Regions from separate parts of the Homo sapiens genome. Here all the other regions are linked to region 4. Evidence: fine-mapped expression QTL. A gene starts in region 4. Each other region holds a variant in brackets. All regions are shown on one strand. Distances are from middle to middle.

Evidence for each region. PIP is the estimated chance that this variant, and not a neighbour inherited with it, causes the effect. A credible set is the group of variants that fine-mapping cannot tell apart.
Region 1: its variant is the best candidate, but not a certain one, in a credible set for the expression of MAN2C1 in monocytes after R848 (Quach 2016, PIP 0.57).
Region 2: its variant is the best candidate, but not a certain one, in a credible set for the expression of MAN2C1 in coronary artery (GTEx, PIP 0.56).
Region 3: its variant is the best candidate, but not a certain one, in a credible set for the expression of MAN2C1 in cerebellum (GTEx, PIP 0.63).
Region 5: its variant is the best candidate, but not a certain one, in a credible set for the expression of MAN2C1 in monocytes (Quach 2016, PIP 0.62).
Region 6: its variant is the best candidate, but not a certain one, in a credible set for the expression of MAN2C1 in whole blood (INTERVAL, PIP 0.55).

Annotation. Positions count from the first base shown.
Region 1 is chr15:75,517,954-75,523,026 of GRCh38, reverse strand. The region is part of intron 4 of PTPN9 (protein tyrosine phosphatase non-receptor type 9); the gene reads left to right. Among named protein-coding and RNA genes, the nearest start is that of PTPN9, 59 kb to the left of the region's middle. The variant T/C (reference allele first, on the strand shown) is at 2,894.
Region 2 is chr15:75,386,198-75,391,270 of GRCh38, reverse strand. It overlaps SIN3A (SIN3 transcription regulator family member A), which reads left to right. Exons shown (of 21, transcript NM_001145358.2): 16 at 1,450-1,619. It also overlaps the pseudogene RPL13P4. Among named protein-coding and RNA genes, the nearest start is that of MAN2C1, 20 kb to the right of the region's middle. The variant G/C (reference allele first, on the strand shown) is at 2,612.
Region 3 is chr15:75,405,558-75,410,630 of GRCh38, reverse strand. SIN3A (SIN3 transcription regulator family member A) reads left to right here. Exons shown (of 21, transcript NM_001145358.2): 7 at 345-497; 8 at 640-795; 9 at 3,487-3,576. Among named protein-coding and RNA genes, the nearest start is that of MAN2C1, 39 kb to the right of the region's middle. The variant C/T (reference allele first, on the strand shown) is at 2,781.
Region 4 is chr15:75,365,902-75,370,974 of GRCh38, reverse strand. MAN2C1 (mannosidase alpha class 2C member 1) reads left to right here and starts at 2,368. Exons shown (of 26, transcript NM_006715.4): 1 at 2,368-2,492; 2 at 2,777-2,902; 3 at 3,341-3,464; 4 at 4,383-4,453. The coding sequence starts at 2,392. It overlaps SIN3A (SIN3 transcription regulator family member A), which reads left to right. Exons shown (of 21, transcript NM_001145358.2): 21 at 1-1,596. RefSeq lists enhancers at 2,193-2,487, 2,172-2,491, 2,063-2,595 and a silencer at 2,622-2,701.
Region 5 is chr15:75,433,253-75,438,325 of GRCh38, reverse strand. All of the region lies in intron 1 of SIN3A (SIN3 transcription regulator family member A), which reads left to right. Among named protein-coding and RNA genes, the nearest start is that of SIN3A, 16 kb to the left of the region's middle. The variant G/TG (reference allele first, on the strand shown) is at 2,193.
Region 6 is chr15:74,856,692-74,861,764 of GRCh38, reverse strand. All of the region lies in intron 1 of SCAMP2 (secretory carrier membrane protein 2), which reads left to right. Among named protein-coding and RNA genes, the nearest start is that of SCAMP2, 14 kb to the left of the region's middle. RefSeq lists enhancers at 2,175-2,284, 3,663-3,732, 3,963-4,012, 4,363-4,422, 4,453-4,562. The variant C/T (reference allele first, on the strand shown) is at 3,056.

The DNA of each region.
Region 1 (5,073 bases), 150 kb before region 4:
CCTAGGATGTGCCCTGGGCAATGCTATGAATAGAAAACAATCCATGTCCTTTAGAACTCGGCATGTTTGCAGGCACTATCAAGATGGTGGGCGTTCTCTTTACCACCTTGGCTCTATGTCAGGAAAACAGAAGCTGAGAAAGTCAATTATCGGCAATCTTCAGTGTATGGAAAACTACTTATTGGAAAAGAATGAGGGGGAGATGACCTGTGCTGGTTCTTTTTGCTCATATCAGAACCTCTAAGGCCTCAGTTTCTTTGTCTGCATAACAGGAATAATGCCGTTTAGTTCAGAGGATTTTGAGACTCAACATTCAGGGGAGGGCTGGGTGCAGTGGCTCACACCTGTAATCCCAGCACTTTGGGAGGCTGAAGCAGGTGGATTGCTTGAAGCCAGGAGTTGAGACCAGCCTGGACAACATGGTGAAACCCTGTCTCTGATAAAAAATACAAAAAATTAGCTGGGTGTGGTAGCGTGCACCTTTAGTCCCAGCTTCTTGGGGGAGGTGGGGGAGGTTGCTGAGGTGGGAGGATCACTTGAGCCCAGAATGGTGAAGCTGTAGTGAGCCATGATCACGCCACTGCATTCCAGCCTGGGTGACACAGCAAGACCTGTCTCAAAAAAAACCCCACAAAAAAGCCCACACAAAACAAACAACAACAACAAAAAAACATTCAGGGAGAAGCCCAGAAGTATAAAGTTAAGCAAAAACCATCCTTAATAAAAAGAGGTGCATAAGCATAAAGAACCAGCTCAGGTCATCACTCTCTTCCTGCTAAGGTAATTGGTATTGTTACAATTCAATTGACAATTAAACTCAAGCCCCAAGAAGTTTTTTACAGTCATCATATGTTAGTCCAGCTGGTTCTAAGATCCTGGTTTCTTCACTCTTGGGCAGAGTTATTTCTGTCCTCCCATGCTGTTGTTCTGCTATTCCTTTTTCCCTGGTGCTTGTAATTTACAGTTTCTTACTGCTCTCGACATCTTTGGCTGGTCCTCCGGATTAGAAGTGCTATATTGAGGCCAGGCGCATTGATTCATGCCTGTAATCCTAGCACTTTGGTTGGCTGAGATGGGCAGATTGTCTGAGCCCGGGAGTTTGAGACCAGCCCTGGGCAACATGATGAATCCACTCGCTTCTTGAGGGCAGGAAACTTTCTTTTTAACATCCGAATCTCTGTAGGTTGAGAGAGAATGGTATCGTGAACATCCACATATCCATCATCCGTCTTCTTCAAAGTGATCTGTAACAGTCTTGTTTCATTGGTAGCCCCTCATGGATCTCCTATCCTCAGTTTCTTTCTTTTTTGTTTTTTGAGACTAGGGCTTGGTTTGTCACCCAGGCTGGAGTGCAGTAGCATGATTGTAGCTCACTGCAGTCTTGAACTCCTGGACTTAAGCAATCCTCCCATCTCGGCCTCCCAAAATGCTGGGATTACAAGCATAAGCCATTGCATCTGGCTTCTCCGTTTTTTTAAAACCAATGTCAGGGACTGTATTTTAAACTTCTTGGTGTTTTCTGTAACATGTAGCTCAAGAATTAAAAAAATATTTTTTTTATTTTTTTTTTCCTTTGAGACGGAGTCTCGGTCTGTCCCCCAGGCTGGAGTGCAGTGGCGCTATCTCAGCTCGCTGCAAGCTCCGACTCCCGGGTTCGTGCCATTCTCCTGCCTCAGCCTCCCGAGTAGCTGGGACTACAGGCGCCTGCCACCACGCCCGTTTTTTTTTTTTTTTTTTGTATTTTTAGTAGAGATGGGGTTTCACCTTGTTAGCCAGGATGGTCTCGATCACCTGAGCTCGTGATCCACCCACCTCAGCCTCCCAAAGTGTTGGGATTACAGGCGTGAGCCACCGTGCCCGGCCCATTGTAAATCTTAAACTGGGTGCAGTGGCTCATGCCTGTAATCCCAACACTTTGGGAGGCCAGGTGAGAGGATCGCTTGAGCCCAGAAGTTCGAGACCAGCCTGGGCAACATAGCAAGGCCTCGTCTCTACAAAAAGTTTAAAAATTAGGCAGCCAGGCATGGTGGTATTTGCCTGTAGTCCCAGACACTCACGGAAGGCTGAACTGGGAGGATCACCTGAGCCCTGGGAGGATCACCTGAGCCCTGGGAGGATCATCTGAGCCCTGGGAGGTCGAGGCTACAGTGCGCCATGATTGTGCCACTGCACTACAGCATGGGCAACAGAGTAAAATGCTGTCTTAAAAATATATATATTCTGGTGGCTCACGCGTGTAGTCCCAGCACTTTGGGAGTCCAAGGGGGTGGATCTCCTGAGGTCGGGAGTTTGAGACCAGCCTGGCCAACATGGTGAAACCCCGTCTCTAGTAAAAATACAAAAAATTAGCCAGGCGTGGTGGTGGGTGCCTGTAATCCTAGCTACTCGAGAGGCTGAGGCAGGAGAATCACTTGAACTTGGGCGGAGGTTGCAGTGAGCAGAGATCGCACTATTGCACTTCAGCCTGGGCAACAAAAGCGAACTCTGTCTCAAAAAAAAAAAAGTATATGTATATATATACACACATATATAAACACACACACATCTATCTATCTATCTATCTATCTATCTATCTATCTATCTATCTATTCTATACCCTAAAGTGTGAAAATCTTACTGCATTCATGTTTTATGTGCCTTCACAGGATGAGCACTTTGATCTGGGAATATAGAACCTGGATCATTCATTATGCATCCAAGCTTCTTTTTTTTTAAATTCTCTTTGCCCCCTCACTGACTTGTTTTTGTTTTAGTCCCCTGCCACAACCTGGAGTCATGAGGGGAAAGCCCATAATTTGAATTTGACCCTTGAGGAGCTCATGGAGAAATAGAAAGTATCTAGATCTGGATAGCCTATTCAATAATTGTGCCACACATTTTCTTTGTTTCTTTT[T/C]ATTTAAGAGACAGGGTCTCACTTTTGCTCGGGCTGAAGTGCAGTTGCATCATCATAACTCACAGCAGCCTCAACTCCTGGGCTCAAATGATCCTCCTGCCTCTGTCTCCCAAGGAGCTGGGACCACAGGCACGTACTAATAAACCCGTCCAATTTTAAAATTTTTTTGTAGAGGCGGAGTTTCACTCTGTTGACCAGGCTGGTCTCGAACTTCTGGCCTCAAGCAGTCTTCACATCTCAGTCTCCCAAAGTGCTGAGATTACAGGTGTGAGTCACTGGACCTGTCCTGTGCCACACATTTTAACAGCATCTTGGACCTTTGTGGATCATAGTCTCTCTGGGGTTGTGAAAAAGGAGTCAAGGGCAGGGCGCAGTGACTCACACCTGTAATCCCAGCACTTTGGGAGGCCGAGGGGGGCAGATCACTTGAGGTCAGGAGTTTGAGACCAGCCTGGGCAACATAATGAAACCCCATCTCTACTAAAAATTAAAAAATAAGTAAAGAAATAAATAAGAAAAAGGAGTAAAGATTTAACACTAATGTAACACATTAGGTGCCAGTTGAAACTAAGTCTGCTGGAGAAACTTTCATGTACCTCAGAATTAGACATTTTTGAAATGTTAGCTCATGGGCGGGTGCTTCTGCCTTGGAATTTGTTAAAGGGATGAAGATATGGAGGTTCCCAGGAGGTGCTGGTGCAAAAATAGTAAGATACAAAATAACTTTGAGGCTGGGCATAGTGGCTCACGCCTGTAATCCCAGCACTTTGGGAGGCCGACGTGGGTGGATCACCTGAGGTCAGGAGTTCGAGACCAGCCTGGCCAACATGGCGAAACCCCGTCTCTACTAAAAATACATTAGCCAAGTGTGGTGGTGGGCACCTGTAGTCCTAGCTACTCGGGAGGCTGAGGCAGAAGAATTGCTTGAACCCGGGCGGCGGAGGTTGCAGTGAGCCGAGATCCCGCCGTTGCACTCCAGCCTGGGTGACAAGAGTGAAACTCTGTCTCAAAACAAAAAACAATAACTTTGAGACTCCTGATTTCAGGAATGAGTTTTGTGCCAAACATTTTCTCAATTCTAAATAGATGTGAAAACTCTTGCTGTCATCTGTGAGTAGTCCAATCAAATAATTTATCCTAATGACCATTTGGGTCTGCAGATCACATATAAGTACGGATCTGGCTTGGTGGAAGAGTACATCTTTGAGAAATCTTTATAAATCTGGGAAATTGGACTGAGGAATACTTTCTGTATCTTCAAATGTTCCTCAGTTTGGTCTGGGAATAGGCTTACTTTTTTTTTTTTTTTTTTCCCCTGAGATGGAGTCTCGCTCTGTTGCCCAGGCTGGAGTGCAGTGGTGCAATCTCGATTCACTGCAACCTCTGCCTCTTGGGCTCAGGCAATTCTCCTGCCTCAGCCTCCCAAGTAGTTGGGATTACAGGCATGTGCCACCATACCCAGCTAATTTTGTATTTTTAGTAGAAATGGGGCTTCACCATATTGGCCAGGCTGGTCTCAAACTGCTGACCTCAGGTGATCCACCTGCTTCAGCCTCCCAAAGTGCTGGGATTATAGGTGTGAGCCACCACACCCAGCCATGGCTTACTATTAATACCTGTTAATCTACTTTTTTTTCTTTCTTTTCCCTCTTTTTTTTTTTTTTTTTAAATAGAGTCAGGGTCTTGCCATGTTGCCCAGACTGGTCTTGAACTCCTGGGTTCAAGCGATCCAGCTGCCTTGGCCTCCCAAAGTGCTAGGATTACAGGCGTGAGCCACTGCGCCCAGTCTTACTTTTTCTTAAGACAAGATCTCACGCTGTCTCCCAGGCTGGAGTGCAGTGGCATGACCTCCCTGTAGCCTCGACCTCCTGGGCTCAAGTGACCCTCCCACCTGAGCCTCCCAAGTAGCTGAGACTATAGGTCACTACATGATGAGGTATTGTCATGTTGCCCAGCCTGGTCTCAAATTCCTGGGCTTAAGCTATCCACCATCCTTAGCCTCCCAAAGTACTGAGACTACAGTCATGAACCACTATGTCAGCCTTAATCTACTTTTTAGGAATGCTTTCCAAAGGCCATTTATGGGTTTGTTCTCTTCCTCCATGGGGTCATAAGAGACAAATTTACTATCAATGAGCTTAGAGGCAGTTTTGTTCTACACAGTTTTTCACAGGTCTGAA
Region 2 (5,073 bases), 20 kb before region 4:
TGTCTTGTCTGATAATGCCAACCCTCACACTTACCACAGCTTGTTTGGACAAATCTGTGGTTTGGACTCAAAACTTTATTCTGGCATAAAAGCAGTTTTCATAGCAGTGGTATATTTTGGAGTCTATAGCCTATACCTATTCTATGGAGCTAAAGAATGTGATAGTCTGTGATGAAACTCAAGCCAGTTGCCTCTTTTAAACAGTATTTGTCCTGTTTTGCCTGTTTTTTAATGAATTCGTCAGACTTCAGATAAATGGAGACAACTTGGTTTTGCTCCTAGCCTTTTTTCTCCAGCACAAACACAACTAGCAAGTAACCAATTAGTCAGTGACAAATAGTTCGTTTTGTAACTTTTTTCATTTTAGTCAACTTTTTGTTGAAGTGCAATGTATAGGCCGGGTGCAGTGGCTTACACCTGTAATCCCAGCACTTTGGGAGGCCGATGTGGGAGGATCACTTGAGGCCAGGAGTTTGAGACCAGCCTGGTTAATAAGTGAGACCCCATCTCTACAAAAAAATACATATAAGGTACGGCATGTATATATAGAAAAGTATACAAATCAGAATTGTGCAGCTCAGTGAATTTTTACAGACTAGACGTACCTATGTTCAAGAAACGAAACATAACCAGTACTCTGATAACCAGTCCTTTTTCCACTTTGTTGATTTCTAACACTAGAGATTAGATTTGTCTATTTTTGAACTTTATATAAATGGGTCTTTAGTAAGCTAAAGGCAGCACTCTTTAATACTCCTTGTGCCCTCTGCTAGTTGCCAAATGTCTTTAACAACTGATGAGATTTATTCTAGCTAGTGATTGAAATGATTCATGTGCAGCAACTACAGATGATTTAATGCAATTTGTGAAATACAACGTAGCGAATCCATTTTTAAACAAAAGGACTTTGACAAATGCAGATTACTTCATTATTCATAAAGGATTTAATTTGCACTCCTATTTTTGTGTTCCCAAGAGGTTTCCCAGTGCTGGAGTATGGCTGTGTCTGCCTTTCCTCATCTGTACTTTATGCTTCATTGAAATAGCTTTATGAGCAAGTGACCCATGTGAGGAATGCTCTTGTGCAGGCTGGGAGAGTAGGTTCCTCTCTCAGCAGGGGAGCCAACAGCTCTTTGAAGGACTGGCTTCCCTAGGATATTTTCCTCTCTGAAAGTGGCCCAGCAGTACCATAAAGAAGTATCTTTCTAGCATGGTAGTCAGAATATTAGAAGCCACTGTTAAAGTTGCAGAGTCACTCTGATAGTGCTGGTGATTGTAGTCACCTGTCGGAATTCATCTCTGTTTACATTGGAATGAGTGAGTATATTTTGAATACCTAGTGTTCATACTTTCAAATGCCATTTAGGCCAGCTGTGGGATTTGCCCTGTACTCTATCCCTAGTCTTTTCTTAGCAAGGTAAGGCCTCACCAATCCCATCTCTCCCACAGTGGATGTTGATGTAGAAGATTATTACCCAGCTTTCCTGGACATGGTGCGGAGCCTGCTGGATGGCAACATAGACTCATCACAGTATGAAGATTCACTGAGAGAGATGTTCACCATTCATGCCTACATTGCCTTTACCATGGACAAACTGATCCAGAGCATTGTCAGACAGGTGAGGGCATGGAGGAGGCTAGGGTGAGTAAGGGAAGAAATCCTTACCTAGAGATGGGCCACGCAAGGAAAAGGAAAGGCAACTTTTTCATATAACAGTGTTTATGAACGTAGGGTTCTGAAGAGAGGAGGGGAGGTTAATGTGATGCCTGATTTCTCATGTTAACAAAGTTGCAGTGTATGAGCCTGCCTACCCCATATCCTTTCTTGCTGGCCACCTGTAGAGTGCAGTGGTCCTGACCCCAGCTTCCTGCACAACTTGTCTATCTCTTACCTTGTCTGCCATGGGTAAGCACACAGTGTGGAACATTGCGTCTTCCATAGGTGTTGGTAAGTTTTTTTTTTTTTTCCTTAAATAGAGACAGGGTGTCACTGTTTTGCCCAGGCTGGTCTTGAACTTCTGGTCTCAAGTGATCCTCCTGTCTTGGCCTCTTAAAGCGCTGGGATTATAGACACGAGCCACTGCGCCTGGTCAAGGTGTTGGTAACTCTTATGTACTTGCATTGTTTAATATTTGAAATTCTTTTTATAAGAAAGGGTTCACATAACATCTTTTATAATACTCTGCCCACCTCACTCATCTGCGGTTCCCTCTAAGTTAGGTTTCTGGTTGGTTTTGTGTGTTCTTCCTGTGGCACCCTGGGAACTTGTAAACATGTTGTTCTTTACAACAATGATATAAAAAATAGCTTGTAACAGATAGTCACATTTCTACTTCTTGGACTTGAGTTCTGAACTCCCAGAGAGATTGTTGGTTAACTGCTTTTTTCTTTTTCTGGAGACCCAGCTCTACTGCTGATTGACTGCAAGTCCCCAGCAGGGCTTCATTTTTCCTTTTCAGCATCCTGTTCTGTGGCTCCCTTGGCCCTTTTTGCCCATATGCCAAAGAGCTGAAAATTGATGTGGGCTGTGTGAAGACTGGCAAATACCTTAAAGTTCTTAGTGATGATTCCAGCTTTCTCCTTCTTATAGACGTACTATATGGGCATTATT[G/C]GTCCTGTCAGCTGGGTGGCTGATTTGAGTTTTTCAGAACTGTCTCCCTTCTTGGGGGCTAAGAGCTTCCTGGAGAAGAGGTTGAGCTTGGAGTCTTAACTCCTTCAGGTGCTGAACATTGGCCCACAGGGACATGGTGTACTAATGCCACCCTCTTGTGGATGCTGGTCACCCTTAACTCTTCTAAGCTGAAGCCCCTGCCAGCTTGTACTTTGGTGTGGTACCTCACTGTGGGGCAGCTTACCATGGGTCAGATGGGTCCAGATGCAGGGTGCAGGTCAATGTGGTATACTTTTGCTTGCATCTGCAGATCTTCTGGGCTGGCTGGTTGAACCACGTGGCCATGGGCCACTGCGATTCCTTGTGGAAGTAGGGCTTTAGGATCATGCTGTTCCACCTGGGTACCGTGGCTACCTACAGCCCTCTTCCATAGAATAGCTCAGCAGAAAGGCGGTGAAGTACTTAAGTGAAAACTTGTAAAAAGCAATTTCTAATTCTAGAATCCACACTGCCACTGTAGAAGGAAAGAGCTTGTTGCTTAATGTTCTCTTGGGCTAAAATATTGAATTCTTTGCAAAGTACCCATGCTTTTGCCTTGGTTTTGGAAGGGTGCATGCCTCTGTACTCCTCCCACAGTATCTACACAGGATTGAGGAAGAGCCCTTCATATAAATGAACCTTAACATCTGGGGGAAAGTTGTCAGATAGTTGTTTCCAATAAGTTGAAGAAGTTGTTAGGCCTTCCCATAAGAGGTCTGGATGGTAACTGGCAGAAATCATTAGATGGATACATAGTCACCCATAGTCATACTTTTTCAGACTAATCTTCCTTAACTTCCCTGAAATTTATATAAAATACAGACTCCAGTTACCCTGTGCTTATGTTGCTGATTACAGGCTTGCTGCTGCTTCAGCTAGGAACGAAGTCTTTCATACCACCAGCACAGCTTAAAAAAAAAATCCAATAAAACTAACTTTTAATAATTCTGAGGTTGGTTTTCGAAACAATAGTTACAATTATTTACTGTATCTGGTTATGATTTTGAATCAGTAATAAATACTATCTCCACCCACCCCCCGCTTTTTTTTTTTTTTTTTAATGGAAACAGGTTTCATCCAGAAAACCCCAAAACAGTGACTTTTTTTTTTTTTTTTTTTCCAACCCAGGGTCTCACTCTATTGCCCAGGCTGGAGTGCAGTGGTGTGATCAGCTCACTGTAGCCTTGACCTCCTACCTCAGCCTCCCAAGTAGCTGGGACCAAAGGGGCCACCACACCGGCTAATTTATTGTATTTTTTGTAGAGATGGAGTTTTGCCATGTTGTCCAGGCTGGCCTCAAACTTATGGGCTCAAGCAATTCACCTACTTCAGCCTCCCAAAGCGCTGCGATTACGGGCATGAGCCACTGTGCCCAGCCTACAGTGACTTTTTAAAACATTTTCAAGCTTCTCAACTCCTTTAACTGGAGGTATCTCTTCTCTCATTCTCCTCATATTTGGTGTTCCCTCAGATTCCACTGCTGACTGAATGTACAACATATATTTCAAAGTCAAGGCTGGTCATGGTGGCTCATGCCTCTAATACCAGCACTTTGGGAGTCCAAGGCGGGCAGATATATTGAGTCCAGGAGTTGGAGACCAGCCTGGGCAACATGGGGAAACACTATTTGTATTAAAAATACAAAAAATTAGCTGGGCATGGTGGCACATGCCTGTAGTCCCAGCTACTCAGGAGGCTAAGGTGGGAGGATCATCTGAACCCAGGAAGTTGAGGCTGCAGTGAGCCGTGATTGCACCACTGCATTCCAGCCAAGTGAAGCCATTACATTTATCTTACCTATTGTAGGCTGGCTTAAGAGGGATTTGTATTAAGAATACAATAGGCAACCTCACAGACATCCAAGTACAGAACTCAAAATAGGACCACACCATGGAAGGATTGGGCTGGGAGGTGATTTTTCTCTCCTGCATGCCTTCACTCTGGACTTCTGCTCCATGCTTGTGCTTTGCTCTGCAGATGAACATACGGCATGTGCTCCAGGCTCCTCCAGCCTCTGAGGCTTTGGCTTGCCCTCCCAGTACCCCTGGTCCCAGTGTTACTAGACCTTTCCATACAGATGCTCCTCCTCAAAAAATCTATTGAACACCCTCTCTGTCATCTCCAATTAGCAAGATAGAGAATCTGATCTGCTTAGCAGTGGGGGTGGGAGTTCCGTAGCTGTCTCTGGATTTGTAGTGCTGTCTTTTCTGAAGACTCGAGGAGGGGCCAGATATCCAAAAAGAGAGTATGGGTGGGGAATCAGTAATACAGTCTACTTCAACAAGAAAGTATAAAGTAGAGGCGGTGGCTCACGCCTGTAATCCCAGCAGTTTGGGAGGCCAAGGCGGGTGGATCACTTGAGCTCAGAAGTTTGAGATCAGACTGGGCAACATGGCAAAACCCCGTCTCTTCTGAAAATACAA
Region 3 (5,073 bases), 40 kb before region 4:
TCCCCTGGGCATTAATATTTATTGCCCTAGGCCGGGCATGGTGTCTCACGCCTGTAATCCCAGTACTTTGGGAGGCCGAGACAAGTGCACTCCAGCCTGAGCAACAAGAGTGAAACTCCGTCTCAAAAATATTTACTACCCTAGTTTTGAAAGGAATTGTCATCCACCATCTTCAACTTTTTTTTTTTCTCAACTTGAAAGTCTGTGGTCAGAACGGGTGCTAAGAACATAGACTTTCTTCTTACATGCAGCCTAAATAGATAACAGTGATTCCAGAAAGCGTGCAAAGATGAGTGACTCAAAACAGTAGCCCAAATGATCTCTTTTCATTTGCAATTCCTCAGAAAGAGCAGAGAAATGCCAAGGAAGCTGGAGGAAACTACACTCCAGCATTGACAGAGCAGGAGGTGTATGCCCAGGTTGCTCGTCTCTTTAAAAACCAGGAAGATTTGTTGTCAGAGTTTGGACAATTCCTACCAGATGCCAACAGCTCCGTGGTATGTTTTTTTAATAAGAATTACACTATTTACTATTATTATCTTAGATGAGTTGGAAAACTGTGCTCAGAAGGGGACTTTTCCTAGATGATATTTGTTTGCTTTGATAAGAGCATTAATCTCATTCATGTGTCTTAATCAGCTTTTAAGCAAAACAACTGCTGAGAAGGTTGATTCTGTGAGAAATGATCATGGAGGCACTGTCAAGAAGCCCCAACTGAACAACAAGCCGCAGAGGCCCAGCCAGAATGGCTGCCAGATCCGCAGACATCCTACAGGAACCACCCCTCCAGTTAAGGTGAGAATGGGCAGCAGCTGCTCATTTTGACACTCACAAGTATTTCTAATGGAGAGGTACTCTAGAGGTGGTCATGTGTTTTGTTGTTGTTGTTTTTTTTTGTTTTTTTGAGACCGAGTCTCGCTCTGTCGCCCAAGCTGGAGTGCAGTGGCACGATCTCGGCTCACTGCAACCTCTGCCTCCCGGGTTCAAGCGATTCTCCTGTCTCGCCCTCCCGAGTAGCTGGGACTACAGGCGCATGCCACCATACCGGGCTGATTTTTTTTTTTTTTTAGTGGAGACGGGGTTTCACCGTGTTAGCCAGGATGGTCTCGATCTCCTGACCTCATGATCTGCCCGCCTCGGCCTCCCAAAGTGCTGGGATTACCTGTGCCCGGCAGTCATGTGTTCTTAAGTGTGTTAACGGTTGGGTCCTAGATATTTGGAGGAAGTTAGTATTGTGTCACAGAAACTCAGTGCAGAGTTTATCTGGCTTTGCAAAAGAGTATTAGAATAACATTGATTGCTTGGATTACTGTACTTTTCTGAGTTCTTTATTATCTCTCCTTTGCAATGAGCTGTCATTTCTTTAATGTTTTGGTTGCTACTAAGAATTTCCAATACTTGAAATTTTTTTCCCTTCTTTTTTTTTTGAGATGGAGTCTTGCTCTGTCGCCCAGGCTGGAGTGCAGTGGTGTGATCTCAGCTCACTACAACCTCTGCCTCCCGGGTTCAAGCAATTATCCTGCCGCAGCCTCCTGAGTAACTGGGACTACAGGCGTGTGCCACCACGCCCAGCTAATTTTTGCATTTTTAGTAGAGATGGGGTTTCGCCATGTTGGCCAGGCTGGTCTTGAACTCCTGACCTCAGGTGATCCACCCACCTCGGCCTCCCAAAGTGCTGGAATTACAGGCGTGAGCCACCGCGCCTGGCCCCTTCTTCTTTGATGCTTTAAATCTGCCTTGTGTTAAGAAAGAACATTCTTGAGCTTGAGAATTATTTCAGAAATAAGTGGTCTCTGAGGTCCTCTTGTGAGTAGAGTGCATGTGTTTTTTGAGATCTCTGGTCTAGAACCCTGTCCTGCTCAAAGTTCTTTGTTGGGTTACCAGATCTTATGTGTATCATCTTAATCTCCAAGGCAGGACCTTTGGGCTGTAGCAGAGGGAAGTCTTAAACTCCTCTTAGTAATCCATTACATGATGTTTTTTGTTATAGTTAACACTGATGGTCTGCCTGCAGAAAACTTAGCTTGCTCCCTTCTTTGATGTAACACAGCTATGATAGGGAGAGGGCTAGTTGTATGTATTGAATGTTTAATTCTTCAGTGAATTTCAAAGCAGTATGTAATATAGAAGAGACAGATATGTCTGCAGAATTAAATAATGACAAAAGTTTGGGAATTTCTAATAGTAAGAGGTGGCTGATGAATAGTGATTGACTGACTACAAGGTCTGACGTACTAGGTGTTACTGACACTTTTGAAGTATCCTTTTCATTAGTGTTTGTCATGGTTTCTTCTTTTGAAATCTTTTGAAATCAAGTTGAACATAATAATGGTTTCTATTTCTTCATTTCAATAAAGAGAATTAGTTATATGGGTAGCAAGAATCAGCTCAGTAGATACACTCCATGCTTGGATTTACGTCCGCCCACTCTTGATTACCTACAGGTGGCAAGAATATAGTGGGGGCTTAAAATTCTCCGCCTACTTTCTCCATAGGCAGTGTAAGCAGAGGCTGCGGCTCTTAAGAAAGTATACTCTGAGATAGCCAAGGTAAATGTGCTACTTCTCACAAAGTTTGTGCATTTCTTCATAGAGAGTAAGTGGTGGATTTTAAAAGTAACTTCTTGCCTGACAGGATTATATCATGGCCTGTTGGTTCCCTTTAGAAGAACAATATTAAATTAGTCTGAGTGGATATTGCTGGCGTGCCTTTTTTTTTTTTTTTTTTTTTTTTTTTTTGAGATGGAGTCTCACTCTGTTGCCCAGGCTGGAGTGCAGTGG[C/T]GTGATCTCGGCTCACTGCAGCCTCCACCTCCTGGGTTCAAGCGATTCTTCTGTCTCAGCCTCCTGAGTAGCTGGGACCATAGGCGCACACTACCACGCCCAGCTAATTTTTTTGTATTTTTAGTAGAGACGGGGTTTCACCATGTTGGCCAGGATGGTCTCAATCTCTTGACCTCATGATCTGCCCACCTTGGCCTCCCAAAGTGCTGGGATTACAGGCATGAGTCACCATGCCCAGCAAATTATGCTTTTTAAGTAAATTTTTAATTGAAATATTATTCAGGGTTAAAGATTGATTTCTGTCAATTTGTGAGCTCTTTTTACAAACAGCCTTTTCTCCCTCAGCTGGTAGGAGAACAAAACAGTGGCATTAGATTCTACATGAAGTTACTTTGGGCCCCTAGAAAAAGTAAGGATATTCTAAAAGTTTGTCACAGTAATGTCATGATCATTTCTGGAGAAAATATTTTGGGGGTAGAATGATCTTTGAACCTCTGTTGTAGAAAGAAACTTAATAGGCAAACTGAAATAGAAAATATGAGTTGAAATCTTAGAGGGTATGGAGTGAGTTGGTTAGAGTTCTCTCATTTGTTTCAAATTATTAATCAGCAGTGGTTTCAGTGATGAAACCATTGAATACAGACAAAAATAAAATTCAGAGAAAACCACTCGTTGAATCTCACATGTTTGTATCTTTCTTTTGCAGAAGAAACCCAAACTGCTCAATCTGAAGGATTCTTCTATGGCAGATGCCAGCAAACATGGTGGTGGAACAGAATCGTTATTTTTTGATAAGGTGAGTAATGGATGAGTTAGATTTGATAGTGCCTGTTAATGCCAAAAGAAAATCATCTTATCCCCCTGGAAGGTTTCGTTTTAAAGGTGTCAGGCTAATTAGGACTTTCTGTTTTTTAACATAGTTTCCCAGTTGTGAGTCCTTTGAGTCTGCTAGTACTATTAGCATAGCTAGAAAAATGGTAGCATTGTTTGCTTTGGTTTTATGAAGCAGTTTGGGGCAGAAGACAGATTTTTAGAAAATGTATTATGTTTCTCTTGAAAGATGTTTGGAGCTCCCATTGTAGATATCCAGGTCTGTGTGGCAGGCAGTACCAGTGCCTGTACCAATTTTTGAGGATTTAAGATGACTTGTAATCTTTTTTTTTTTGAGACGGAGTCTCGCTGTCGCCCAGGCTGGAGTGCAGTGGCGCAATCTCGGCTCACTGCAGGCTCCGCCTCCTGGGGTTCACGCCATTCTCCTGCCTCAGCCTCCCGAGTAGCTAGGACTACAGGCGCCCACCACCTCGCCCGGCTAATTTTTTGTATTTTTAGTAGAGACGGGGTTTCACCGTGTTAGCCAGGATGGTCTCGATCTCCTGACCTCGTGATCCGCCCGCCTCGGCCTCCCAAAGTGCTGGGATTACAGGCGTGAGCCACCGCGCCTGGCCGATGACTTGTAATCTTATTGCTGTGATAGTTATTTGTAGTACACACATACATAGCATTCAGGGGAATTCTAATTTACTTGCATGTTTTCAAAGCTACCCAGCTGATTCTAATGAGCAACGAGAGTTGAGATTATTGGCATAAATGATGTTGTGTGGTGCCTTAGTTTGGCCACATAAACTTAAGTGTGATTTGCTCCTCGGAGTCAACTTGATGATTAGCAGGAAACTTTCATCAGGGTAGCTGGCACCTGTTGGGCTTCTCACTGGTAGGAATCAACCTGGATTGATCTGTGGTGATTGACTCTATTTTCTGCCTCTTGGGTTTTGCAGAAGGGCAGATGATTTAACATCTCCGTGATTAGTATCTCCTGATCCCTTTCTGTCTGCTGTGCCTATGTGAGCTTTTTGCAGGAGAGTCCTGCAAGAGTGTTGAGTCCTTAGCTCTGATGTGAATCATTACCAAAGTCTGCTTGGGCGGTTGGTGCTCTTAGACAAGTGTGGAAGTCTAGATCACAACCAATAAATGTCAAGAAAAGGGTATGGAAGGGAAGCTATTATAAATTAAGAATTAAGAAATATATAAGCCAAATGTGACATGCAGACTTTGGATTCTGAATTTAAAAGCTGATTTATTTTTATTTTTATTTTTATTTTTGAGACAGAGCCTCACTCTGTTGCCCAGCTTGGAGTGCAATGGCGCAATCTTGGCTCACTGCAACCTCCGCCTCCCTGGCTCAAGCGATTCTCCAGCCTTAGCCTCCCAAACAGCTGGGACTACAGGCGCCTACTACCGTGCCCAGCTAATTTTTTCATTTTTAGTAGAGACAGGGTTTCACCATGTTGGCCAG
Region 4 (5,073 bases):
TTTTTTTTTTTGTAAATAAATAAAGCTTGGTTCTTACTTAAGGAATAAACTCTCAACCCACGTCCCTTGTCCTCACCAGAAAATACTGTGAAGCAGGGATTTTGACTTCAGTTCCTTATCCAGGGTAGAAACAGGATTTTGCTTAAAATACTTGTTACTTGTCCCAAATCAAAATATTCCAAAATCTTAGAATACTTAAGTCTTTTAGTACGTGTTTTTTTCCCTTGTTCAAATAATCTGAAAATATTTTATATTTGGGTAAGTTGTCAAGCTATGTAGTTTGTATTTCTATATATTTTTTCTTATTCACATTGGTGATGGATGGGGGTGAGCAACTTAAATACCAAACCAGTGTTTGAAAAAAAAGTGTGCATAAGGCATGTGGTATACCTTATAAATGGAGTTGGGAGGGAGAGAATTTGAAATGGGATACCTATTTTTTTAATTACATAAATTTAAACTAGCAGACATTTAAACATGAATGATTAGGATTTTTCTATGTGGTTAACCTGGACTTTCTGAACAAAGACCAACTGAGCCCCTCCCAGTACTCTGGTGGATTTTTCTTCAGCAACCATTACGCAAGTCTTAGTTGTAACCAGCAATGTTCTGTGTGTTTTATGTTTGCTTTTTAGTTAAAAATCACCACCACCACCAAAAAGAAAAACAAAATTTTTTGGCTCCTGGATTTTCAAAACACATGGTAGACCTCTCTGATTTTAGGCTTTTATTGTTTAAAGACAGTGTCTCGCTTTATGACCCACACTGGAGTGCAGTGCCACGATCATAGCTCACTGCAGGCTTGACCTCCCAGGCTCAAGCAGTCCTCCCACCTCGGCCTCCTGAGTAGCTGCATGCCACCACGCCCAGCTAATTTTTTAACTTTTTGTAGAGACAGGGTCTTGCTATGCTGCCCAGGTTGGTCTCAAACTCCTGGCCTCAAGCTGTCCTCCCACCTCGGCCTCGCAAAGTGCTGAGATTACAGGTGTGAGCCACCCTGGCCTGATTTTAGGCTTTTTTTGTACTGGGGAGAAGAGACTGTGAGCCAAAGTGTAGGGTGCCAAAAAGAGCTTTGTGGGATGAGATTTTAGGGCAAAGCTGGGGCAGTGTCTGACTTGGCGGTGGTCATGTGTACTGATTTAGGGGAAAGATCTTGAGGTTTTCTCAAATAATTCACCTATCCCCGTGTTCCCTCAAGAAAGGTCATGTTGACCTGGAACCATAGGGGAAATTGGTGGGGTGTGATCAGGGTCAGCCCCAGCTGTTGCTGCCCCTGCAGTGTTTTGTCCAGAGCACTTGCCTGCAGGTCAGGATAGGATTTCAAGGCCAGTTCAGGAGAAAGTCCCAACCCACCAGTGCAACCAACAAAAGAGTAAGTTTTACCTACAGCCTGGGTTTTCACAAGTAGCATTTTTATTCCTCCTGCTGTCTGACATCTGAGCTCCAAGCTCTAAACCCAACCTGTATTATATGCAGCAGCAGGTTATCTTTGTTTTAAATCACATTTGTTATTCTGTACTTAGTCACCTTTCCGTGTGATCTGCATTTGAAATGTTGTAAACTTGGTCAGTATTTCCATTAAAATATCAGGGCTAATCTTGTGTATTTTTTTTTGTTCCTAATGATTTTATAGACAAAGACTCTTGGCAACCCCAGGAGAAAAAAAATAAAGCTGTCAGTGGAGTACTAGGGATGAGAATGAAACTGGAGGTCTGTTTCTGGTATTATGGCTTCCCGGGACTCTACAGTCCTGTATGGTGAAATACATTTTTCCATTGGGATCGTCAATGCCATGACTGTTCTGCCACCTCAAACTCCAGAGTTTCTGGTGATGTGCAAGAGTTAGCAATATACATTCAGTAAAGCGTGTAATCGAGTAAGTCGTAGTAACTTGGGCGTAAAGCTCTACCACCCTGCTCACTAACACCCTGATCTCCGTCCGGTATGAAAACACCTATTCCGGGTAGTCTGGCTCCACGTTAAGCAAACACCACTTTCCGTGTTCACCGACAGCTAGAGCCAGAGGTCTCCCGGTTGCTGCTTCTGAGGCTGGGTCTGCAGCAGCTGAGGCTCCCGCCTGTCTTGCCGAATGGCCTAAGTCTCTGTCTTGAGACTTTCGAGAGTTCTAATCGTCAAATTTCCCATTTTATTTTGAGATTTTCCCTGCGGCCCACTATTTCGGACAACATAGGAGAGCCTCAAAAACAGTTTCTAGCTTCCAACTCGGCTCAAAGTTCAGACAGCAGCTGGGCTTCCGAGAGCCGCCGGTGTTCCAAGAAAAGCTGCCCGGGACTGGGAGGCGCCCTCTGGACGCCGGAACCTTTGGTTTCCTGCCGTGGAGCGGAACGGTAGCGCCAGGGGCCTTCCGGAAAGAGGAGCGAGAGCCCGGCGATGGCGGCTGCGCCGGCCTTGAAGCACTGGCGCACCACGCTGGAGCGGGTGGAGAAGTTCGTGTCGCCGCTCTACTTTACCGACTGTAACCTCCGCGGCAGGTGTGGCCCCTGGTCCCCCGCAGCCGGCCGACCGCAACCGTGCGCCTCAAGCTTTCCTTCCGGGGAGAAACCTAAGCTGCAGCCACCCGGGCCGCGGGACAAAGTGCCCGCCGCGGGCAGGGCAGGGGCCGGGGAGGAGGGGGTAGGGAATGGACTGTGCCGCGGAGCGGCCAGGCAGCCCTCTTGGCGGAGGATCCAGGGAAAGTGCGGCCCCACCGGCCAGCTGGCCCCCAGGCGGAAACGGGGCGGCCTCCAGCATGTGCCCACCGGCCCGTCCCACGCAGGCTTTTTGGGGCCAGCTGCCCTGTGGCTGTGCTCTCCAGCTTCCTGACGCCGGAGAGACTTCCCTACCAGGAGGCAGTCCAGCGGGACTTCCGCCCCGCGCAGGTCGGCGACAGCTTCGGACCCACGTAGGTAACGCCCAGCGGGTGGGCGGGGCCACAGGCCTAGGGGAAGTCCCAACCCAGCTCCCAGCCACACCTTCGTTGTCTGCCCTCTGCCGTAGACAACTACGTGGGATCGAGCAGCACCCTCTGCTGGGAGCAGCACCCTCTGCTGGGAACAGCTCTCTGGTCCCTGGGTCTTCAGGGGATGGTTTTCATTCCCACGTGGCCGCCTCTGGACATCCCTTAGGAAGGGCACCCTAGGGATCACGAACCTTTGACGCCTCTGCCTGTTTCCCTCATCTTGCTTCTCACCTTGTTGCTCCTTTCTTGTGACTCAAAGCTGAGTACCTTGTGACACTGCAGATGCTTGGAGAGTTTCAAGCCCCTGCCGACACTTTATCCAAGGAAGGATATCAGGATAGGACTTCTACCTCTAGGCCTATCACAACAGCTCTCTTGCAGATGGTGGACCTGCTGGTTCCGGGTGGAGCTGACCATCCCAGAGGCATGGGTGGGCCAGGAAGTTCACCTTTGCTGGGAAAGTGATGGAGAAGGTCTGGTGTGGCGTGATGGAGAACCTGTCCAGGTGAGGAACCCTGTCCTAGGGCCAGGTATGGCCACATTTCAGCCCTGAAATGACTACAGCCCTTCTTCTGTGGACTCTGGAGAAGCCACAGCTGAGTTGCTCTGCCCACAGGGTGGTATCAGGATTTCAGGACTAGGGAAGTTGCCACTTGGGCATCTGTGCAATTGGTCCTTAGTTTTTATTGTGTATAATACAAACTTATAGGAAAACATTTCAAACAGTTCTAGATAAAGTAATGGATCTCTCCTTATCACCCATCCCATTCCCCAGCTATAACCACTGTTAAGTGTCTTATTCATGCTCCACCCTTATCAGGTTTAGTCCTTATACTCCTATCTAGTAGGTCTTTATACCCATTTACAAATTAAGAAACAGATGTGTAGTTGACTCACTCAGGTTCACACAGCTTCTATTTCAAATTGGACTGACTCTCAATCTGGGGTTAAGACTGTTCTTCCTGGCTACAAGAAGGCAGAGACCATCCCTTCCTCCCTTCACTGGCTCAGCAAATATCTCCTGGTGTCCATTCTGGGCCATACCCTTAAGCACTAGGGTGTAGCAGGGAATGAGGCAAACCTGCCCCTGACTTCACGGAGTTTCTTTCCCGGTATTTATTTAGGGGTGCAGAGGCCACCAGAATCCACACTCAGGCTGCCTAACCCCTTCCCAGGGCCCTTCCCATAAGACCATGGGTTTGCCACTGGTAAACAGGGGCTATTTGACGGTCATGGTGCTGGCTGCCATGGGAGTTGGGGCATCTACTGCCAAGGGTCCCTGATTTGCCAATCTTGGCCCTGCTTGGGAGAGAGGACCCAGAGCTGGGAACCAGATGGAGGGGCCTGACTCCCCATGGCTTACACTTTACCTGAACTGTCCAAAAGCCTCAAGCCTTGTCTCTCTCACTCCCCTCCCTACTAGGGTTTAACCAAAGAGGGTGAGAAGACCAGCTATGTCCTGACTGACAGGCTGGGGGAAAGAGACCCCCGAAGGTGAGTCCCTGTGCCCTGGTTGACCAGTGCTGTCAGGGAGGGAGTACCAGTGAGCAAGGAGGAGCTGAGGCCCAGAGTGATCTCATAAGCCCGCCTCTGCTCTAGCACAATCATCCTCACATCTCATTGTTTGCTTTTAAAAGCATGATTTTTTCCTAACCATAAAAATAATGGGCTGGGTGCAGTGACCCACACTACCCTGGGAGGCTGAGTGGGAGGATCACCTGAGCCCAGGAGGATGAGGCTGCAGTGAGCCATGATCACACCGCTGCACTGCAGCCTGGGCAACAGAGTGAGACCTTGTCTCAAAAATAATAGCAATGTTTGCCTGTGGTAAATACAGGAAAGCACAAAGAAGTAAATAACTACCGTTATTCCACTCCCTAGAATAGAGATGAACATTATTAACATCTCAGCATTCATGTTCTTTTTTTTGAGACGAAGTCTCCCTCTGTCGCCGATGCTGGAGTACAGTAGCACGATCGCAGCTCACTGTACCTTCTGCCTCCCAGGTTCAAGCGATTCTCATGCCTCAGCTTCCCGAGTAGCAGGGATTACAGGTGTGTGCCACCACGTCCAGCTATTTTTTTTTTATTTTTGGTAGAGAAAGGGTTTCACCG
Region 5 (5,073 bases), 67 kb before region 4:
TGGCGCGATCTCAGCTCACTGCACCCTCCGCACCCTGGGTTCAAGCGATTCTTGTGTCTCAGCTTCCTGAGTAGCTGGGATTACAGGCACCCACAACCACACCCGGCTAATTTGTTTTTCGTGCTTTAGTAAAGACAGAGTTTCGCCATGTTGGCCAGGCTGGTTTTGAACTCCTGACCTCAAGTGATCCGCCTGCCTCAGCCTCCCACAGTGCTAGGATTACAGGTGTGAACCACCGCGCCCAGTTTTATTATAACACATGGCCAGGTGACTTTTAGGACCTGTAGGTGTTTTTTTTGTGTGTGTGTATTTGGGATCTTCCTCTGTCGCTCAGGCTGGAGTGCAGTGGTGCAATCTTGCTTAATCTAACCTCCACCTCCTGGCCTCAAATGATCCTTCCTCCTCAGTCACCCAGAGTGCTGGAATTACAGGTGCAAGCCACTGTGCCCACCAGGTGACCTTTAAATGTTCTGCTGCCATTATTTAGTCTTCTCTCCATAGTTTCTATACGTCAAAGTGCTTTTTTTTTCTTTTTATAATGTCTTCCTAGACTAGAGTTCTGATAGTACTATAAACTCCAAATTTGAAACAGATGGAGATCAACCATGTTGGCTGAAGCGGGACTTGACAGTACTTTTGTGGCTGACTTTGTGGTTCCATCGTTTGGCTTTCTTTATATTCTAGAATTACACTGTACCCCTCTGCAAGCGTGGTTTTACAGTCTTGTCCAATGTTTCTACTTTAGATTGTTCATATTCCAAGGAGGAAGAATTTAACCTCTTGCTCTTTTAGTCAGGTATGTGACCTTGAATAAGTCATTTAATTTGAGTATCAGTTTCCCTCAAAAAAAGAGGGGTCTGGCTGGGCGCAGTGGCTCATGCCTATAATCTCAGCACTTTGGGAGGCCAAGACAGGAGGATTGTTTGAGGCCAGGAGTTGGAGACCAGCCTGGGCAGCATATCGAGACCCTGTCTCTACAAAAAATACAAAAGTTAGATATGGTGGCGCTGCCTATGTCCCAGCTACTTGGGAGGCTGAGGTGGGAGGATTACTTGAGCCCAGGAGGTTGGGGATGCGGTGAGCCGTGATAGCCCTGCTGCACTCCAGCCTGGTGGACATAATGGTATGCTATTGCAAAAAAAAAAAAAGGGTTCTGGGACTGCCTATCTGACAGGATTGTTGCGAGGAGGACATCAGCTGATAGCAGTCATACATGGAAGACTTGGCTGTTGTCGGGGAGGAAATCTCTGGCTCAGTGCTGGACTTCTAACCCTCCGCACAGGGCCAGGCATGTCTTAAGCACTTGCTAATTATTTGTGGGATGAATGACTTGGCAAAGATTGTAAATAACTATTGCCTGCAAGTCTAAACTTACTATTTTAATTTCATGCTCTATACCCCTGTGTTCTAATTCATCTCTAATTTTCAAGATGTAGCTGAATATTTACCTTTATAGAGTCTTCCCAAGTGTACCTGTCTGTATCCCTTTCCCAATTTATAGTACTTATTTTTTCCACTCAAGAGCTGGTTTGTATTGTTGGCTTTTCTTCCTGTTTTTTTTTTTCCTAATCCTCAGAACCTGTGGATGTTTTTTTCCAAGACTTTATCAAGAAAATTTCCAAATACACAACAAAGTTGATAGAATTTTAGTAAATATAATGAACACCCATATACACACTACCTAGATTTTACCATTATCATTTTTCTACTACTAGGTTTAACATATGCCTGTCCATCTATCCATCGCTCCATCAATGAATCTGATTTTTTGATGTATTTCAAAATAAATTGCAGACATTAGTATACTTCATCTAAGCACTTGAGCATGTTTATCATTATCTAGAGTTTAATATTGTTTATAGCATTTTTCTTTTTTGTCCAGGCTCGAGTGCAGTAGCGAGATCTCAGCTCACCTCAGCCTCTGTCTCCTGGACTCACATGATCCTCCCACGTCAGCCTCCTAAATAGCTGGGATTACAGGTACATGCCACCATGCATGGCTAATTTTGTATTTTTTGTAGAGATGGAGTCTCGCCATGTTGCCCAGGCTGGTCTTGAACTCCTGTGCTCAAGAGGTCCGCCTGCCTCGGCCTCCCAAAGTGCTGGGATTACAGGCACTTTGTGAGCCATTGTGCGTGGCTAGCATGTTTTTTCTTTGTCTTTTTCTTTTTTGTTTTTTTTGTTTTTTTTTT[G/TG]AGACAGAGTCTCACTCTGTTGCCCAGGCCGGAGTGCAGTGACGTTATCACTGCTCACTACAACCTTGCAGCCTCAACTTCTGAGGTCAAGAGATCCTTCCACTTCAGTCACTGGAGTAGCTAGTACCATAGTTGTGCGCCACCACTTCCAGCTAATTGTTTCTTTATTTTGTAGAGACAGGGTCATCCCATTGTTGCCCAGGCTGGTCTCCAGCTCCTGGGCTCAAGCCATCCTTGAGCCTCAGCTTCCCAAAGTGTTGGGATTACAGGCATGAATCACTGTGCCCAGGCACATTTTTCTTTCAATGCAAATTTTACATACAATGAAATGTACAAATCTTTAGTACATTTTGTATGTGTATATATACATACATGAGATCATGCTGTATGTATTCTATAGCTTACTGTTTTCTTCTTCTTTTTTTTTTTTTTTTTGAGACGTAGTTTCACTCTTGTTGCCCAGGCTGGAGTGCAGTGGCGCCATCTTGGCTCACCTCAACCTCTACCTCCTGGGTTCGAGTGATTCTCCTGCCTCAGCCTCCTGAGTAACTGGGATTACAGGCATGCGCCACCACGCCCAGCTAATATTTGTGTTTTTAGTAGAGACAGGGTTTCTCCATGTTGGTCAGGTTGGTCTCGAACTCCCAAACTCAGGTGATCCACCCGCCTCGGCCTCCCAAAGTGCTGGGATTATAAGCGTAAGCCACTGCATCCGGCCTAGCCTGCTGTTTTCACTTAATATGTCTTAGAGTTCATTCTTTGTACTTGTGGATAAACCCTGATCTTTCTGATTCCTACATAGTTTTCCATAATATGCATGATCACATTTATTTAGCTGATAGATATTTAGATTTTCATATTTTGCTGCAATAAATATACTCAGCAGATGTGTAGGATACAGGCCTGAAAGTGGAATTGATAGTTTCAGTATTCCAAAATCTAGTATGTTTTAGAGTTCATTTCTTATACTCGTGGATAAACTTTGATCTGATTCTTACATAGTTTTCCATAATATGCATGGGATGGGTATGCACATTTAAAATTTTAATAAATACCTACAAGTTGCCAGCTAAATAGGCTGTACCAATTAAAGCCTCCTCCATCAGTGTTTCCCTGTATCCTTACCCACACTGTCATCTTTTTTTTTTTTAAATTGCTTTGGAGTAAATTACTTTTTTTTTTCTTGAGGCGGAGTTTTGCTCTTGTTGCCCAGGCTGGAGTGCAGTGGCGCGATCTCGGCTCACTGCAGCCTCTGCCTCCCAGGTTCAAGCGATTTTCCTGCCTCAGCCTCTCGAGTAGCTGGGATTACAGGCATGCACCACCATGCCCGGCTAATTTTGTGTTTTTAGTAGAGACAGAGTTTCTCCATGTTGATCAGGCTGGTCTCAAACTCCCGACGTCAGGTGATCCACTCGCCTCGGCGAACCAAAGTGTTAGGATTGCAAGTGTGAGCCACGGCGCCTGACCTTTTATTTTTTTTTTTTTTGAGACAGTTCCACTCTATTGCCCAGGCTGGAGTGCAGTGGCGCGATTTCGGCTCACTGCAACCTCCACCTCCCAGGTTCAAGTGATTCTCGTGCCTCAGCCTCCTGAGTAGCTGGGATTACAGGCGCCCACAACCACACCCGGCTAATTTTTGTATTTTTAGTAGAGGGAGGGTTTCACCATGTTGGCCGGTCTGGTCTTGAACTCCTGACCTCAAGTGATCCGCCTGCCTCGGCCTCCCAAAGCGCTGGGATTACAGGCATGAGCCACCGCGCCCGGCCTACTTTACACGTTTTTTATTACTAGTGAGGCTATATATGGTTTTAGAGGGCAAGGGCTGAAATCATCTACCAACTTCATATCTACTCACTGAACATTTGCTTTTAATGAATGAATGCTACTAAAGCATTTCTGCTTTATTAGGTTTAGGCTGAAGAAGGATGAGTTAGCTAAGTGTGTGAAAGGTTAAAAAAAGCTGAACTTGCTCCCTGCATGTGTGCCTTAAATAAGTAAAGGGATTCTTCCTTCACTTCTTCTCTTCTGTGAGAGGTAAGGTAGTGAAGTAGTTAAGAGCCAGGCTCTGGAGACAGATTTCCTGGATTTATATCACAGCTTTGCCTCTTACTAGCTGTGCAACCTTGGGCAGTTTACTTAATCTTTGTTTTTCAGTTTCCTCATTCATAAATTAGAGAACACCTTGCTTATAAGGTTGTTGTGAAGGATGATCAGGGCCTGAAACCAGGAGGTATGATTAGAGCGGAAGCAATTTATTTGAGAGAGAGTTAGGAATAGAACTTTGAGTGGTAATTGTTTGTTTGTTTGTTTGTTGTTGTTGTTTTTGAGATGGAGTCTTGCTCTGTCGCCCAGGCTGGAGTGCAGTGGCATGATCTCGGCTCACTGCAAGCTCTGCCTCCCGGTCCACGCCATTCTCCTGCCTCAGCCTCCCGAGTAGCTAGGACTACAGGTGCCCGCCACTACGCCTGGCTAATTTTTTGTATTTTTAGTAGAGACGGGGTTTCACCATGTTAGCCAGGATGGTCTCGATCTCCTGATCTCGTGAGCCACCACGCCCGGCCTATGAGTGGTAATTGTTAAAGGAATAAAGTATGGTTCAGAGAAAGTTCAGCCTCTGTAGTGTTGTAGAGGTGGTATGGAAAGCAAACTCTGGAGGTGGATGAAGTTAAGTACCATATGAAATCCCAATCACTTAATAAAAGAAACGATATTTTAACAGCCAAAAGATAGAGTATGATATCAGAATAAACCATAGTACTGTAATACTTAATGTATGAAAAGCTCACTACAATCTTCTTTTTCCTTATAGACTGGTTCATAAACCAGCATTTGGAAATCACTAATGTAGGCTGATCCCCTCCTTTTGCCCCTGTTTGAAAAC
Region 6 (5,073 bases), 510 kb after region 4:
CACGCCCGGCTAATTTGGTTTTGTATTTTTAGTAGAGACAGGGTTTCACCGTGTTAGCCAGGATGGTCTCGATCTCCTGACCTCGTGATCTGCCCACCTTGGCCTCCCAAAGTGCTGCGATTATAGGCGTGAGCCACCATGCCCGACCAGAAAGCCTGTTCTGTATTGCTGCACCATCTTCATAGCTGTGATGCTTAGTGGCGTTGTGGGCCTTCAAGGGGATGCGTACCAAAACATACCTGTGGTCTCTGTCATTGGATGTTTGTTTCGTGCTTTTTTCTCCTATTGTAAGTCCTGGTCCTATGAATATCATTGCAGGTACAGATTTTTACATGTTTTTGTGATATTTTCTTAGGACAGATTCTCAGGTATCAGGTCAGAGAGCACCAAGGTCAATTGTGGCTCTTTGTGCACTGGGACCCAGCTAGCCACTCTGGGGGTGATTGCTTTTTCGTGCTCTGTGACACTCAGCCTCATCTCCAAAGCCAATAGGACTTCACAGAGGTTCCAGAGTGTTGCTGACTCTCTGCCTCTCAGCATGACCCTGAATTTTTAATGTTTTAAAATTTATTTATTTATTTATTTTTCCCTGAGTTGAGTCTCGCTCTGTTGCCCAGGCTGGAGTGCAGTGGCACGATCTTGGCTCACTGCAACCTCTGCCTCCTGGGTTCAAGTGATTCTCCTGCTGCAGCCTCCTGAGTAGCTGGGATTACAGGCACCCGCCACCATGCCTGGCTAATTTTTGTACTTTTAGGAGAGATGGGGTTTCACCTTGTTAGCCAGACTGGTCTTACACTCCTGACCTCAGGTGATCTACCCGCCTCAGCCTCCCAAAGTGCTGGGATTACAGGCATGAGCCACCGTGCCTGGCCAGAATTTATTTATTATTATTATTATTGTTTATTTTTTTGAGACAGAGTCTTGCTCTGCTGCCCAGGCTGCAGTGCAGTGCTGCGCAGTGATCTTGGCTTACTGCAGCCTCCTCCTGGGTTCAAGTGATTCTCCTGCCTCAGCTTCCCAAGTAGCTGGGACTACAGGCATGCACCACCACGCCTGGCTTTTTTTTTTTTTTTTTTTTTAAATGGAGTCTTCCTCTGTATCCCAGGCTGGAGGGCAATGGCACAATCTTGGCTCACTGCAACCTCCGCCTCCCAGTTCAAGCGATTCTCCTGCCTCAGCCTTCCAAGTAGCTGGGATTACAGGCGCCTGCCACCACGCCCAGCTAATTTTGTATTTTTAGTAGATATGGGGTTTTGCCATCTTGGCCAGGCTGGTCTCAAACTCCTGACCTCAGGTGACCCACCTGCCTCAGCTTCCCAAAGTGCTGGGATTACAGGCGTGAGCCATCACGCCTGGCCAATTTTTGTATTTTTAATAGAGATGGGGTTTCACCATGTTGGCCATGTTGGCTGGTCTAGAACTCCTGGTCTCAGGTGATCCTCCTGCCTTGGCCTCCCAAAGTGCTGGGATTACAGGTGTGAGCCACCAGACCCGGCCAATTTTTGTATTTTTAATAGACATGGGGTTTTACCATGTTGGCCATATTGGCTGGTCTGAAACTCCTGTTCTCAGGTGATCCGCCTGCCTTGGCCTCCCAAAGTGCAGGGATTACAGGCCTGAGCCACCGCGCCAGGCCTAAACTTATTTTTTATTTTTACTATGAAAAAAAAGAGACAGGGTCTCGCTATGTTGCCCAGGCTGATCTCAAACTGGATTTAAGCAACCCTCTCACCTCAGCCTCCCAAAGTGCTGGATTATAAGCTTGAGCCACCGTGCCCGGCTGGCCCTGAATTTTTTTTAGTCCGTGAGATAAGATATTTATTTAATGTGTTTATTTGGAGCCTGAAATAAACCTCACACTGGGAGCCTGGGTGGAATACAGGAAGGGAAGGCAAGGAAAAGTCACAGAGAGCTCAGACAGCCAGCACCTGTGAAACGCATGGTATGAGGTTTCCAAACCAGTGACAAGTGTGGTTTTCAATTAGCCGGGCGTGGTGGTATGTGCCTGTAATCCTAGCTACTCAGGAGGCTGAGGCACGAGAATCGCTTCAACCTGGGAGGTGGAGATTGTAGTGAGCAGAGATTGCGCCACTGCACTCCAGCCTGGGCAACAGAGCGAGACTCCATCTCAAAAAAAAAAAAAAAAAAGTGTGGTTTTCATGGCCGTTCCTGGGAGAGCTGCAGCCTAACTCTGCCTGCCTCTCTTCCCTCACTGCCTTTACCCCCCAGCTATGTGGAAGTGCCCCCCTGCCTTGCAGTGGTGGGGGGCCTTACTGATCTGGGCCTTTGCTGTCTGTCTTCCTTCTACAACCTGGCCTTTCTTGAAGCCCACCGAGGTGTCTCCCCTTCTTCCTGTTTTTTGCTCTGCACCTTGCCGTGGTCCCCAGCACCCCTTCAGGGGGTGCCCACTTGTCTCAGATACCAGATTGTGGACTCCAGAAGGGTGAGAGCTGTGTCTTATGCATTGTGGTATGTTCCTCACACTGTAGCTGGTTGCTGAATGAAAAGAACTGAGGTTAAGAGCCTTTTATTTGTTACAAATTCAGTAAAGGGCAATAGCCACTCTGAGTGGCACTGCAGGGGAGTTTTAGGTTATTCCTCCTTGTAGGTGAAACTTAGCCCTCACCATCCTACTTGACCCATTTAAAAGCCAGTTAGGACCGGGCATGGTGGCTCACGCCTGAATCCCACCACTTTCGGAGGCTGAGGTGGGCGGATCACAAGGTCAGGAAATCAAGACCATCCTGGCTAACACAGTGAAACCTATCTCTACTAAAAATACAAAAAAAGTAGCCGGGCGTGGTGGCAGGTGCCTGTAGTCCCAGCTACTGGGGAGGCTGAGGCAGGAGAATGGTGTGAACCCGGGAGAGCTTGCAGTGAGCTGAGATCGCGCCACTGCACTCCAGCCTGGGTAACAGAGCAAGACTCCGTCTCAAAAAAAAAAAAAAAAAAAAAAAAGAACCAGCTCTTTGAAGGAAAGAAGGAAGCAAGGAAACAAGCAGAAGCCCTTGTCAGTGTCCTCCTGGAGTGGGGCTCATTCATCCTGCCACATATT[C/T]ACTGAGCGCCTTCAATTTGTCAGGCTCCGTACCAGGCTTCGAGATGCTTTGCCCCACTCAGCTTTACCATCTTGTGTCCCTGGAGACAGACTTGGATTGAAAATCTGGCTGAGCCACTACCCCTGAGATCTTAAGACAAGCTACTTCCCCTCTCTGAGCTTGAGCTTTTCCAGCTGCAAAATATAAATATTCCTTCCTCATAAGGCTGTTGTGAGGGTTAAATGAGGAGCTGTATTGTAGCTTTTCTCAGCCAGGGTCCCGAGCTGAGCCACAGAACAGAGAAGCTGATTGGAGTGACTCTCTCAGCTCTCTCAAGTATGGAGTATAACTAGTACCACCCTAGGTACCAGGAGAGCAGTAAAGTCATTATAAATAGTGGATTAGGGGGTCATAAGTCTTTTGAAGAACCAGGTCAAGGAAGGCCAGTAAAACCCTCTTTTCTGACAACTCGACACAGTGGCTAGTTCTGGGGTGACTAGAATTTCACAGTAGCATCATTGTGTGGTGAGTTTGGCACACCGTAGACACTAAGTAAATGTCAGCTTCCTTCCCCAGTCCCTCCTCCTCCCTCCCTTTCTTGCCAGGGCTCAGCTTGTCTTGAAGCCACGCACATCTTTCAGAAAGAGCCTAGGTTTTCTTAGATGGGAAAATATCCACTTGTCTCAGCGTTTTAGGTTGCTCTTCCTAGGCAACGTGCTTCCAGGCCCTTGGGCTACTGCTGTGATGCAGGTGCCTCCTGTTTGCTATGCCCTGGCACTTGGGCAGTGCTTTCTAAAAAGAGGGAGGCCCTACAGCGTGCTGCGTGTCTTCTCAAACCGCTGAGCTGCTGTGCTGCCATAGGCCCTTCACCAAGCACCAAGGAACTAGAATATGAACCAGACACAGATGCACATGGCTGCAGGGAGCTTCTAACTTAATCATGGAGATCAGATTTGTTTATGAGGAGCCCGGTGAGGAGTCCAAGGCCATGTCTTTAAGATTTTAGGAAAAAGGGAGGGATCAGAGTGGACAGGGCAGTCACCCTATGATCCCCATCACAGTCCCCTTCTGTCTGCCATTCATAAAGGAAATGGCATCTCTTTGTGGGCCTGGAGATCACCTATTAAACATGTGCACCTTGGCCAGATGTCTGTTTGCCATTACCTGAAACTGCTACCAGAGTGGCCCCTCTTCCTCTGTCCTCTGGTGACTCAGACTCGAGGAGCCACTTCTGTGGATGGTAGATCCGATTTCAGTGACTTCAGCGGTGGCTAGGTGTCTGCTGAGTCTGAGAGGGGAACAGATACCAAGCCCCAAATCTTCCTTGCAGGAAGCCAGATGATTCTGGTAGTAAACCACTGGTCATTCAGGCATGAAATAACCTCAAGGCCAATTCTTCAGCAACACAGAGCCTCCTGAACTTCACCTTGTCACTTTGTCCAAGTTGCAGGAGCCATCAGGGCAGAGGTGGTGTTCAGCAGGAAGAACATAGCCACAGTCTGTCGCAGAGGAGGTTGGAAGGGGTGGAGGCTGTAGTATGAGGCCCGTCCAGACACAGTGAGTTCTGGCTGTATGCCTGGAGGCAGTCAGACATTCATACCCTCTATGAACTGGTGGCTCAGGTGGGAAGATAAGAGATAAGAGGAAGTATCTGTGATAAAACCAGAGAACATATTCAATGCTGACCCTCAGCTCTATAAATATTCAGAGTAAGGAGAGAGCTCCCATTTTGGGTCCTAGGATCATGGTGAATATCAGTTTCTACATCTGTAAACTGAGGGGGTCACTCTGTGGCTATGTCTAATATTAGCATTGTATTTAACAATTGGATCTGGACAGGGCAAGGTGGCTCACATTTGTAATCCTAGTGCTTTGGGAGCCCAGGGTGGGAGGACCACTTGAGCTTAGGACTTCAAAACCAGCCTGGGCAACAAAGCAAGACCCCATCTCTACAAAAAAACTTTAAAAATCAGCCAGGCCTGGTGGCTCATGTGTGTAGTCCTGGTTACTCCGGAGGCTGAGGTGGGAGGAATGCTTG